Regions from separate parts of the Homo sapiens genome. Here regions 2 and 3 are each reported to be linked to region 1. The links are microRNA targets in miRTarBase. Many come from high-throughput screens and were not tested one by one. Region 1 holds a microRNA gene; each other region holds the end of a gene's coding sequence.
Evidence for each region. Region 1 holds the annotated microRNA hsa-miR-3688-3p (UAUGGAAAGACUUUGCCACUCU, at 2,639-2,660, shown strand). A microRNA usually pairs through its seed, bases 2 to 8, with sites in the 3' UTR of a target mRNA and lowers its output. Matches are read on the target gene's strand: a 7mer-m8 pairs with bases 2 to 8, a 7mer-A1 pairs with bases 2 to 7 and ends in A, and an 8mer does both.

Region 1 (4,241 bases):
CTAGTTGTGATTTTTATTTTTTAAAGGACGAGAGTTAAACACAATTTTCAGGAAAACACCTATCTCCAAATTGGTTGAAACAAAATACAAAATAGCATAGGAGAGAGCAATTCTAGAAACCTTTGAAAGCCCAGTGTAAAGCAATTCATCATTCTTACCAAGCTGGGTGAAATTTTTAAAAATAAGAAAGTCTCACCAACACAACTTAAAATCTGGCTTTTTGCATATTTTTAGTTTTCTTTATATATGAAATAAGTGAAGTAATTTTGATTGTAAAATGTCATTTATTCTATCTCCTGTCCAGGTTTTAAAAAAAAAAAAAAGCCTGATGCCTCCCTGTCATCTCTCAGAAGATTTTAAGACTTTCTCAGAATTTTCTTTTTAACTTACTGGATAAACACTCCTCTTTGCTGATTGTGAAAATGACCATCTTAAAAGTGTTTACAGGAACCCACACTTATCCTTTTCCCCCTCTGCTTTTAGGCTAGGTCATAATTTCAGTTTCCCTTCATTTTTATTTTTCTCAGTTGATTATAAGATCAGAGCTACAAGAGGAAAAATGCTGTTATAGACCTGTTTATTTAGGATGGTCTTTTAGAGGAAAAAACCCGAGTCCTCATTTCTCATTGTCAAGTAGAACCCCATTCATGTGCATGGTAATTGTCAAGAATCATATTTGTAACCACAAAGAACAATAATCTCACACTATCTTCTGGGTAAACTGCTCCTACGTTTGAATTGATTTTGTAAAGAGGTAACTGTGGTTTGTGGATGAAAACATTTGTTTATTTGCATTTTTTGTTGTTGTTGTTTGTTTTCTTGAGACGGAGTTTTGCTCTTGTCGCCCAGGCTGGAGTGCAGTGGTGCTATCTTGGCTCACTACAACCTCCGCCTCCTGGGTTCAAGCGATTCTCCTGCCTCAGCCTCCTGAGTAGCTGGGATTACAGGCACACGCCACCACACCAGGGTAATTTTTGTATTGTTGGTAGAGATGGAGTTTCACCACATTGGCCAGGCTGGTTTTGAATTCCTGACCTCAGGTGATCCGCCTGCCTTGGCCTCCCAAAGTGCTGGGATTACAGGTGTGAACCACCGCACCTGGCCTATTTATTTGTGTTTTATGATACTATTTACCTTCTCACTGCCACCATTCTCAGGGCTTTATCAGTACCCCACAAAAAACACACCTTTTGATTTCCTCCCTTTTTACCTGTGGTAGTAACTCATTTAATGCCATGTTCCCCCCTTCATGAAGCATCTTCTAGTTGCTTAGTCTAGAGGTTGAATTTTTCTTTATGCTGTCACTGTTTTTAGCTTGCGTTTCTTCTGGGCATTCCTTGGCAATGCATAATTTCGTAATTATTAAGTGTACATATCTCATTTTTAAACTGCAGAATTCCTCAAAGGTTAAACTACCTTTATGACCTTTATGTCTCCATGGCGTTTTATAATACCTTAGCATTCCTTAAATATTCAAATGTATAATATGAAGTGTGTTTGACATTCTCATAGTAATAGAATAAGAATACTAATGGGGTATATAGCTCAGTTTGGTGCAGTTTTTAAAATTTAATTCATAGGCAGTTATTTTTATTATTTGAATACAACATTGTTCAGGCTTGTAAATTATTTTAAGACAGTCAAAATTGATTCTTAGAAAATTGCCTGGTTAGGTGATAGCAATTCAAATTTTACTTAGTCACCATGATTTGTGTAAGTTACAGAAGCAAGTCAGAAGCAAAGTCCTGAATTCTAGGCATGGTGTTATGAATCTCTATGCCCTGGACTGCAGTTTATTGCCTTGGATTATATTTAGGTATGTATATATATGTTTGCTTTCCTTGAATTTTGAACTCCCTGTTTTATACATGTACCTTATAACCTTTCTTTTGTTAGGAGATACTTTAAATTGTACGTTCTATTTCATCTAGTAAAATCCAAGAAGAAAAAATACTGAGACTAATAATGTCTTAACTTTTACATTACTGTCAATCTAATAGTACATTTTGGGGCCTAATTCTACTGAGGAAGACTAGCTGGAAGAGAGGGACTGATGTTGTATCCAGTTACTCTCCACGTGACCCTGGAAATTTTCATTGGATCTTAGTTTTCTCACCTGTAAAATGGAACACAATGCTTTCCATACCTATTTTCAGGGTTACGTAAGTTTAATATATGAGAAAGTACTTCGCAATGGAAAAGTCTACATGAATGTAAAGTATTACTATTGCTGACATAATAAAAATATTAGTGTCAGTAGAAATTGTGAGTCATTTATAAAGATAATAGGCTAAGATCTTCTTAATATTCTTAACATTTGGCTAGTAGTTTATTCACCCCTCTTTTTGGTGAATACAAAGCAGTAAAACCATGTTTTCAAATTATTATTTGGTTATGCAGGTTAATACTTATATGGATTATTTTAGAAGTACAGGCTTCATGTTGAGTTTTGTAAAGAGCTTTCTCTTTGCCAAAACATTTTCAGACTTCAAAGAACCATTGTGTAAAAACTCTTTTACACCAATGTATCTTAAATAGTTTTGATCATTTTATTTAAATAAAGAAGCTGAACCAAAAGTTCTTCACTTTAAAGAGTGGCAAAGTCTTTCCATATGTGTAACAGACATACATACATACATATGGAAAGACTTTGCCACTCTTGAAAGTGAAGAGTGTGTGTATATATATACATATGGGGGGTGTGTGTGTGTGTGTGTGTGTGTATATATATATATATATAAATCTATTTTAAGTATATTTTTTGGAATACATATTTGTAGAAGAAAAGATTTGTAATTGTATGATATGAATGGATGCAGTCTTTTGATTATTGAAATCTGTCATCATTCTGTATTTAAATTTGAATGCTGCTATGTGATCTTAGACATGGAGGCAGAAACTTGCATAGAAATGTAATAAGAATAAGAATCTTGAATAGAAATCTTATCGCTTTCTTTTTGAAGAATTTGAAAAGCAATTAGAATTGCTTTCATATTATAAATGCTCACCATTGAAAGGTGCAATATTAATGAATCTTTATATTATGCCTCTAGTTATCTCTTAAGAGTTACTTTGATAATATAGACCTTTTGAAAGTGCCACACTGATGGTTTCAGGTTGCCTGTCAGTGTAATAATACATAATGCTTACAGTTATGGTGTCAGTTCTTTATTTTATGTTTAGGGAGCACATATCTCAGAACAGTTCAGGAAAGACATAGAAAAGCAGTTGTCATTTATAAAGTGTGTGTTATGTGCCAGAAAGTCACCTAGATGTTTTCTTATGGTTTATTCAGTTCTAACATCAACCTTATAAAGCATGAGGTACTATTATCAATTTACCAATGAAGAAACTGAGATGCAGGGATTAAGTAATTTGCTTAAGAACAAATAACTGATTTCAAAGTCCCTATTCTATCCACTCTACTCCCCCTATAATAAGAGCAGGTGTAAATGTCTATGTTGTTGTTAATAAAGACTTTTACAAAATGAAGTTCTAATTTAGTTAGGATGTTTTTCTCTTTTTCGAGACAGTGTTACTGGAAAGGGGTCCCAATCCGGACCCTGAAAAGAGGGTTCTTGGATCTTGGGCAAGAAAGAATTTGGGGTGAGTTCATAGAATAAAGTGAAAGCAAGTTTATTAAGAAAGTATGGGAATAAAAGAACGGCTACTCCATAGAGCAGCCCTGAGGACTGGTGGCTGGCTGTTTTTATGGTTATTTCTTGATTATATACTAAACAAGGGGTGAATTATTTATGAGTTTTCCTGGAAAGGGGTGGGGATTTTCCCCAGAACTGAGGTGTTCCTCCCTATTTTAGACCATACAGGGAAACTTCCAGACATTGCCATGGCATTTGTAAACTGTCATGGCGCTAGTGGGAGTGTCTTTTAGCAATCTAATGCATTATAATTAATGAATAATGAACAGTGAGCACTACCAGAGGTCACTTTTGTTGTCATCTTGGTTTTGGTGGGTTTTGTCTGCTTCTTTACCTTGTCTTATCAGCAGGGTCTTTTTGACCTGTATCTTGTGGTGACCTCTTATCTCATCCTGTGACCAAGAATGTCTAACCTCCTGGGAATGCAGTCCAGTAGGTCTCAGCCTTATTTTACCCAGCCCCTATTTAAGATGGAGTTGGCTCTGGTTCAAATGCCTCTGACAACAGGGTCTTGCCCTGTCACCTAGGTGGAATTGCAGTGGTGTGATTATAGCTCACTGCAGTGTTAAATTCTTGAGCTCA
Region 2 (4,241 bases), not on the chromosome of region 1:
GGCCCTTCGTGAAGTGCTGGGCACCAGGCCGAGTGTCTGGTCTGCAGGGTGACTCAGGCTGAGGAACTAGCCTGAGCTCCTGACAGGACTTTCCTTCTGCCCTGCCACCTTCTCGATGGCCCAGTGAGCCTCTCGCTTCCCTCTGCAGGCTTCACCGCTGACCTGAGGTCCAACACGGGCGGCCAGGCGTTCCCCCAGTGTGTGTTTGACCACTGGCAGATCCTGCCCGGAGACCCCTTCGACAACAGCAGCCGCCCCAGCCAGGTGGTGGCGGAGACCCGCAAGCGCAAGGGCCTGAAAGAAGGCATCCCTGCCCTGGACAACTTCCTGGACAAATTGTAGGCGGCCCTTCCTGCAGCGCCTGCCGCCCCGGGGACTCGCAGCACCCACAGCACCACGTCCTCGAATTCTCAGACGACACCTGGAGACTGTCCCGACACAGCGACGCTCCCCTGAGAGGTTTCTGGGGCCCGCTGCGTGCCATCACTCAACCATAACACTTGATGCCGTTTCTTTCAATATTTATTTCCAGAGTCCGGAGGCAGCAGACACGCCCTCTTAGTAGGGACTTAATGGGCCGGTCGGGGAGGGGGAGGCGGGATGGGACACCCAACACTTTTTCCATTTCTTCAGAGGGAAACTCAGATGTCCAAACTAATTTTAACAAACGCATTAAGAGGTTTATTTGGGTACATGGCCCGCAGTGGCTTTTGCCCCAGAAAGGGGAAAGGAACACGCGGGTAGATGATTTCTAGCAGGCAGGAAGTCCTGTGCGGTGTCACCATGAGCACCTCCAGCTGTACTAGTGCCATTGGAATAATAAATTTGATAAGGTGGTGACTCTGTTCTGCATTTTTCACGGTGTCTTCGCAGGGGAGCGGGGCTGCCCAGTACTGGGCTCCCTGGAGCCTAGAAGGGGACCCGGGCCCTAGTTAGGTGCAGCCTGGGGCTGCCTCAGTGTTAGGTGGAACGTTCTGGAATGGTGGGAATGCCCTACCCCTGTGTCATTCAGAGAAGCAGCTGCCAGCTGCGCGGGTCTGCTGAGCATTTGAAGTAGGATCAGTGCGGCAAGGAATTACGAGATGTCACTTTGAACGCATTTGGATGGCCCTGTGGAGCGAGGGGCTCTGGATTGAACTTCGCAGGTTTCAGCAACTTTCCGAATTGCTGACGAGCTCACAAGTTCTATCTGCCATCAGGATTTTCTGTGGTCACCCCAGTCCTGACTAGTTTATTAGAAACCCATTTTTTTTTTTTTTTTTTTTGAGATGGAGTCTCACCGTTTGCTAGGCTGGAGTGGAATGGCACCATCTCTGCTCACTGCAACCTCCACCTCCCGGGTTCAAGCAATTCTGCCTCGGGCTCCTGGGTAGCTGGGATTACATGCGTGTGCTACCACGCCCAGCCAATTTTTATATTTTTAGTAGAGATGAGGTTTCACCATGTTGGCCTGGATGATCTTGATCACTCGACCTTGTGATCCACCCGCCTTGGCCTCCCAAAGCGTTGGGATTGTACCACTGTGCCCGGCCTTGTAAACACTTTTTTAGAGGCAGAGTCTTGCTGTCTCCCAGATGAGTATAGTGGTGCAGTCAGCTCACTGCATCCTCCACCTCCTGGACTCTCCTGCCTCAGCCTGCCAGGTAGCTGGGACTCCAGGCATGTGCCACCATGCCCAGCTAATTTTTATTTATTTTGAGACAGAATTTTGCTTGGCCTGGTTGGTCTCGAACTCCTGACCTCAAGTGATCTGCCCGCCTCGGCCTCCCAAAGTGCTGGGAATTATAGGCGTGAGCCACTGTGCTGACCTAATTTTTACTTTTTTTGTAGTAATGGGGTCTCACTATGTTGCTCAGGCTGGTCTCCTTCCCGGGCTCAAGCGATCCTTCTGCCTCAGCCTCCCAAAGTGCTGGGATTTCAGGTGTGAGCGCCAATAGCTTAGAAAACTATTTGTTTTTCTAAATAGTGCCTAAGATGTGAGGAGGCCTAATCTTGTCAGTGCTGATAAGGTTAACATGATCATTTTCCGCCTTTTACTCTGTCCTCAGGAAGGCAGGTGGGGACTGTGAAGTAGGGCTGTGGGGTTCTCGGCAAAGGCGGGGGCAGCTCTGGCCCTGCATTGTCAAGGCCAAGCCTCAGCTGAGGTTTTGCCCACATGTAGGTATGCCTGAGGTTTGGTTTGGCTGTCGCATTTGAATTGGGGCTGTAACTGACGCTGTTTCCAGCAGTCAGGGTAACGGATTACTGTGTTTCGAGAATCTCACTCTATCGCCCAGGATGGAGTGCAGTGTTGTGATCTTGGCTCACTATAGCCTCTGCCTCCGGATTCAAGTGCTCAAGCAATTCTTGTGCTTCAGCCTCCCGAGTAGCTGGAATTACAGGCGCCTATCACCAGGTCTGTGTAATTTTTGTATATTTAGGTGAGATGGGGTTTCACCATGTTGGCCAGGCTGGTCTCAAGCTCGACCGTAAGAGATCAGCCCGCCTCAGCCTCCCAAAGTGCTGGGGTTACAGGTGTGAGCCACCATACCGGGTCCTATTCTTTTTTAGTAGTGCAAACGTTAAGATGGTATGTGGAAGCTGAATTTTTTTTTTTTTTTGAGACAGTCTTTGCTCTGTCACCCAGGCTGGAGTGCAGTGGCTCAATCTTGGCTCACTGCAAGCTCCGCCTCCCGGGTTCACGCCATTCTCCTGCCTCAGCCTCCCGAGTAGCCGGGACTACAGGCGCCCGCCACCATGCCCGGCTAATTTTTTGTATTTATTAGTAGAGACAGGGTTTCACCGTGTTAGCCAGGATAGTCTCGATCTCCTGACCTCGTGATCCACCCGCCTCGGCCTCCCAAAGTGCTGGGAATTATAGGCGTGAGCCACTGTGCTGACCTAATTTTTACTTTTTTTGTAGTAATGGGGTCTCACTATGTTGCTCAGGCTGGTCTCCTTCCCGGGCTCAAGCGATCCTTCTGCCTCAGCCTCCCAAAGTGCTGGGATTTCAGGTGTGAGCGCCAATAGCTTAGAAAACTATTTGTTTTTCTAAATAGTGCCTAAGATGTGAGGAGGCCTAATCTTGTCAGTGCTGATAAGGTTAACATGATCATTTTCCGCCTTTTACTCTGTCCTCAGGAAGGCAGGTGGGGACTGTGAAGTAGGGCTGTGGGGTTCTCGGCAAAGGCGGGGGCAGCTCTGGCCCTGCATTGTCAAGGCCAAGCCTCAGCTGAGGTTTTGCCCACATGTAGGTATGCCTGAGGTTTGGTTTGGCTGTCGCATTTGAATTGGGGCTGTAACTGACGCTGTTTCCAGCAGTCAGGGTAACGGATTACTGTGTTTCGAGAATCTCACTCTATCGCCCAGGATGGAGTGCAGTGTTGTGATCTTGGCTCACTATAGCCTCTGCCTCCGGATTCAAGTGCTCAAGCAATTCTTGTGCTTCAGCCTCCCGAGTAGCTGGAATTACAGGCGCCTATCACCAGGTCTGTGTAATTTTTGTATATTTAGGTGAGATGGGGTTTCACCATGTTGGCCAGGCTGGTCTCAAGCTCGACCGTAAGAGATCAGCCCGCCTCAGCCTCCCAAAGTGCTGGGGTTACAGGTGTGAGCCACCATACCGGGTCCTATTCTTTTTTAGTAGTGCAAACGTTAAGATGGTATGTGGAAGCTGAATTTTTTTTTTTTTTTGAGACAGTCTTTGCTCTGTCACCCAGGCTGGAGTGCAGTGGCTCAATCTTGGCTCACTGCAAGCTCCGCCTCCCGGGTTCACGCCATTCTCCTGCCTCAGCCTCCCGAGTAGCCGGGACTACAGGCACCCGCCACCATGCCCGGCTAATTTTTTGTATTTATTAGTAGAGACAGGGTTTCACCGTGTTAGCCAGGATGGTCTTGATGTCCTGACTTCGTGATCTGCCCACCGTGGCCTCCCAAAATGCTGGAATTACAGGCGTTAGCCACCATGCCCTGCCACTTTTTTTTCTTTGAGATGGAGTCTCCCTCCGTCACCCAGGCTGTAGTATAGTGGCATGATCTCGGCTCGCTGCAACCTCCACCTCCTGGGTTCAAGCAATTCTCCTGCGCTAGCCTCCCGAGTAGCTGGGATTACAGGCATGTGCCACCAGGCCTGGCTAACTTTTGTATTTTTAGTAGAGACAGGGTTTCACCATGTTGAGCAGGCTGGTCTTGAACTCCTACTTCAAGTGACCTGCCCGCCTTGGCTGCCCAAGCTGTTGGGATTACGGGCGTGAGCCACCACA
Region 3 (4,241 bases), not on the chromosome of region 1:
TATGGCACTCCAGCTTGGGTGACAGAGTGAGGCTCTGTCTCAAAAAAAAAAAAAAAAAAAAAAAAAAAGATGCTCAAAATCACTAATCGTTAGGGAAACACATTTCAAAACCACAATGAGATGCCACTTCACACCCATTAGGATGGCTACTATTAAAAATGAAACCAAACCAGAAAATAACTGTTGGCGAGGATGAGGAGAAATTGGAACCCTCGTGCCTTGCTGGTGGAAACGCAGAATGGTGCAGCCACTGTGGAAAATGGTCTGTCCATTCCTCAAAAAACTAAAAATAGAGTTACCAGATGACCCAGTAACTCCACCTTCAAAAGAATTGAAAATGGGATGTCACAGAGGTATTTACTTGTACATCTATATTCACAGCAGCATTCTTCACAATAGTCAAAAGGTGAAACTGACCCAAATGTCCACTGATGGATGAATGGGTAAACAAAATATGGTATGCACATACAATGGAATATTATTCAGCCTTTAAAAAGGTATGAGATTCTAATACATGCTACATACTTTCAAGAATGAACCTTGAAAACAGTGTGCTAAGTGAAATATGCCAGATACAAAAGGATGTATGATTTTGCTTATATGAGGTTCCTAGAATAGTGGAATTCATAGAGACAGAAAGTAGAATAGTGGTTACCCGGGCTAGGAGGAGTGGGGAATGGAGAGTTATTCTTTAATGGTTATGGAGTTTCAGTCTGGGTTGATGAAAAAGTTCTAGAGATGGATCATAATGATGGTTGGACAACAATGTAAATGTACTTAGTGCCACTGAATTGTACCTTTAAAAATGATTAAAATGGTAAATTGTGTGCTATGTATATTTTACCACAATATAAAAAGGCATAGACATACACACCTTCACTCAGCTGCAGTAGCCAAATTTCAAGTACTCAATACTCATATGTGGCTAATGGCTATTGGATAACACTGGCCTAAAATAGAAGATTTTGGAGGTGACATATATTTGGTGGGACCATAAGCATAATTTGGTTTTGATAGATAGCTTAAGAATATCAGCTTCCTTCTTCTAGTCAACAATAAAAGAATGGGAAACAGTAAGAGCACAATGCACAGAGTTTGGTTCTGAGCACCAATGTGCACTCACTCTCAAACTGGGAGCCTCCTGCGGGCAGGGCTGGTGCCTGTGTTATTCCATGTGATGTGGGCAGGTGATGTAACCCCTGGACATAGGCTTTGCCTTCCTAAGAGGGCCTGATGCTTTCCAGATGAGATTCCACATCTTCTTACGTTGCGGTGGAGAAAACCAGCTTCTGAACCTGGAAGCATCACCTTCCCGTGCCCGGCGCAGAACAGCTCCTGGAAGCCAAACACCTCTAGAAGGGGAGGGAGCAGCATGAGGAAGGTAAGAGAGACAGGGTCCTGCTCGGAAGGCTCCAGTTAGGTGGTGATGGGGACTCACTGCTGGGCAAGGGGCACCAGAATAAAGATGGGGATCAGTTCTCCCCTAACTCACGTACTTCCTGCAGAGAAATCAGCCTGCAACGCAGGATCCAGGCGAACAGAGGAGGGTGATAGCAAGCCCTCCAGTGGGGCAGAGGGAGGAGGTCTGCACTAAACATCAGTGAAACCACAAAGAACCAAGCATGGTGACTGGGAGTAGAACTAACCCGGATGCCAGGGGGCGAGTGGAGGAAGAGAGTTCTGTCCGCAGGGGGAGCTGCCCAGAGCTGCGACGAAATTTGCTGAGGTCATGCCCAAAGTCAATAAATAGGGATGTGAAGAGGATTCCATTTCATGATGTGTTAAAAAATTTCTTTAAATCTATATTTGACAATATTTCATGTTTTTAAGTCTTCAAATAGAAGCTAAGCCAGGAAAATCTGAACTCTGAGGATGTGGAATGGCCAGAAAGTAAGCCCTGTGCCTCGCAGGTGGGCACTAGTGGTCCTCAGCCAGGAAGTGGCTCTTGTGAGATTATTATTGAAAAGGTGCAGTAAAAAAAACCCAAAAACAAACAAACAAAAAACTTTTTTGAAAAACACAAGCAAATATGTTCCCCCTACAAATACTCCAAATAACGAAGGAGACCCATGTCCAGACACACACATGCTAGAATGGTAAACACCTGTGTCAGGATTAAATGACACCTTGTAAGATGTTCATGGTCCCCAACAGGAAGGGACTCAATAATTGTGTTTCAATGATGTCTAAATGTATGCTTCTGTCTTTCATATCCAATCCTTGGGTGAAGTCCAGGGGCCACTGCCAAGGAAGTGGGTGCTTAGGGGAAAAGAGAAGAGCTGAACTGGCAGGAGGGTCAATTGGAAAGTTGGAGAACTGCACAGAACAAGGGCTCTCAAAACCTTGATTTCCCTTAATGAAACCACCCACAGTGGCACCATCGTCAAAACAGCTGTGAAGAACTTGGAGGCTCTGTCCTCCTCTCAGCAGATTCATCAGCAGGAAGGACTTAGGCCAGGAGGAAGGGAGCTGGGTCCAGGAAAGGAGGGCTGTTCCTGCAGGCCAAGTCCCCATCAAGGCCACCAGAGCGTGCTTCCAAGTACTGCAGCTTAAGCAACGCCCCCCTGAACTACTGGAGGAATCCAACTCTAGGACCGCTACTTATAACTAAAGACAAGATACTAGCACAAGGCCACTCTGCTGTCCATGGAGAAATACCACCAAGCAGACAAAACATGTTACTGCTGTGCTCAGGCTCTGCCTGCACCGCTGGGCACAGGGCTGGGGTGTCAGTCACGCAGGAATGCAGAAAGCAGGAGGACTCACCAGAAAGGTGGGTCAAAAAGGAGATGTACACAGGCAGGAGGCCGAGCAAGGCACCCATCCATGGAAAACGTGGCGTAAAGATTTGGGGTTATTATGGTTGGTGGTGGGGGCTGGTGAGCAGATCTAATATCTGCACCTCGAGAACACACCATCCCTTCCAGCCAGGGTGCACAGCAAGCAGCTGGCACAGAGCCCCCCTTCCCCCACTCCATTCATGCCCCTGAAGCGGCAACTTAATTTTCTTTAAAGGGAGATTGGGGAGGGAATGGAGAGACGAAGAGAAGACAAATAGCTGGAGAAAGATAAATACCTAAGTAAGTTCCAGGAAAACACACACAGAGGAAACACACCAATGCTGAAACCGCAATGATCCAGAAGAAGCTAGTGTTTGGTTACCATTTGCTTCAGCATCCCAATTTCCCTGATCATCTTTTGTTTTTTTCTTTCTTTTTCTTTTTCTATTTTTGAGACAGGTCTTGCTTTCTAGCTAGGCTGGAGTAGTCATGCGATCATAGATCATTGCAGCCTTGAACTCCTGGGCTCAAGAAATCTTCCCTTCCCAGCCTTACAAGTAGCTGGGACTATAGGCATGTACCCCTATGCCCAGCAACTTTATTTTCTGTAGACATGAGGTCTCATAATGTTTCCCAGGCTGGTCTTGAACACCTGGCTTCAAGTGATCCTCCCACCTCAGCCTCCCAAAGTCATTGATCATCTTGACGTATTTCCTCTCATTAGCTTGTCATTTTCCAGCAGGATATTCTGCGGTCCAGTTTCCCTGTTCTGCTCTCAAATGACTGACAGGGGGCCGACACCCTCAGGAGTCACCTCCATGCAGATGGGGCACTGGAGCACTGCTCTGTACCTCCCAGCAGAGGTGGTGGAATGAGGAGGATGTGAGTATCCACCTTTTTTAGTACAGGCTCCACGAAAATAAACCATACCACCAAATAAATGGTTTAATTTTATTTCAAAATTGTACAAAATGGCCATAAGCGGCTATAAAAAATTTGTCTTCAGAACATGTGGAAATTCAGAAACAACAAAACAGGTATCATTCACAGTGTAATGGAAAAGCTTTTTCTGAGGCAGGAATTATAACTCTTCCTTCTTTTTCCCTAGTCTTTCATGGTCTCCCTCCCGGAGGGCTCGAATATAATTGGTAAATCCCAATTCCTGCAGGGAAGTGGGAGAGAGAGAGAGAGAAAGAGCTTTAATCCCTGAGCTGGCTGTGCACTCTCTCTCCCCACACCCCCAGCCCCTCCAGGGGGTCACTCCTATGACAGGGAGAGGTGGGCAGACTTCTGCAAGGTGGAGAGGGTCTGCGTGGCTTGCACCAGCCCCGACCAGCAAGTGAGAAAACCCTCGGCATCTGGAGTCCAGCCTGCCTCTGGGGACAGGACATCTGTGGCAACCCCTTGGGACTCTCCTCCAACAATGTCAAGCCTCAGCCAGGCCCAGGGCCTGGGCCTCTC

Region 2: miRTarBase lists EEF2 as a target of hsa-miR-3688-3p. Seed matches in the 3' UTR shown: 7mer-m8 at 619-625.
Region 3: the mRNA of PDIA5 is a reported target of hsa-miR-3688-3p. Seed matches in the 3' UTR shown: 7mer-m8 at 3,835-3,841.

The regions. Positions count from the first base shown.
Region 1 is chr4:159,126,223-159,130,463 of GRCh38, forward strand. MIR3688-2 (microRNA 3688-2) reads left to right here and starts at 2,583; the gene lies at 2,583-2,669. All of the region lies in intron 1 of RAPGEF2 (Rap guanine nucleotide exchange factor 2), which reads left to right. It overlaps MIR3688-1 (microRNA 3688-1), which reads right to left and starts at 2,672; the gene lies at 2,580-2,672.
Region 2 is chr19:3,972,655-3,976,895 of GRCh38, reverse strand. EEF2 (eukaryotic translation elongation factor 2) reads left to right here. Exons shown (of 15, transcript NM_001961.4): 15 at 149-840. The coding sequence ends at 342. Among named protein-coding and RNA genes, the nearest start is that of DAPK3, 3.7 kb to the right of the region's middle.
Region 3 is chr3:123,161,581-123,165,821 of GRCh38, reverse strand. It overlaps PDIA5 (protein disulfide isomerase family A member 5), which reads right to left. Exons shown (of 17, transcript NM_006810.4): 17 at 3,718-3,942. The coding sequence ends at 3,862. MIR7110 (microRNA 7110) reads right to left here and starts at 4,028; the gene lies at 3,943-4,028.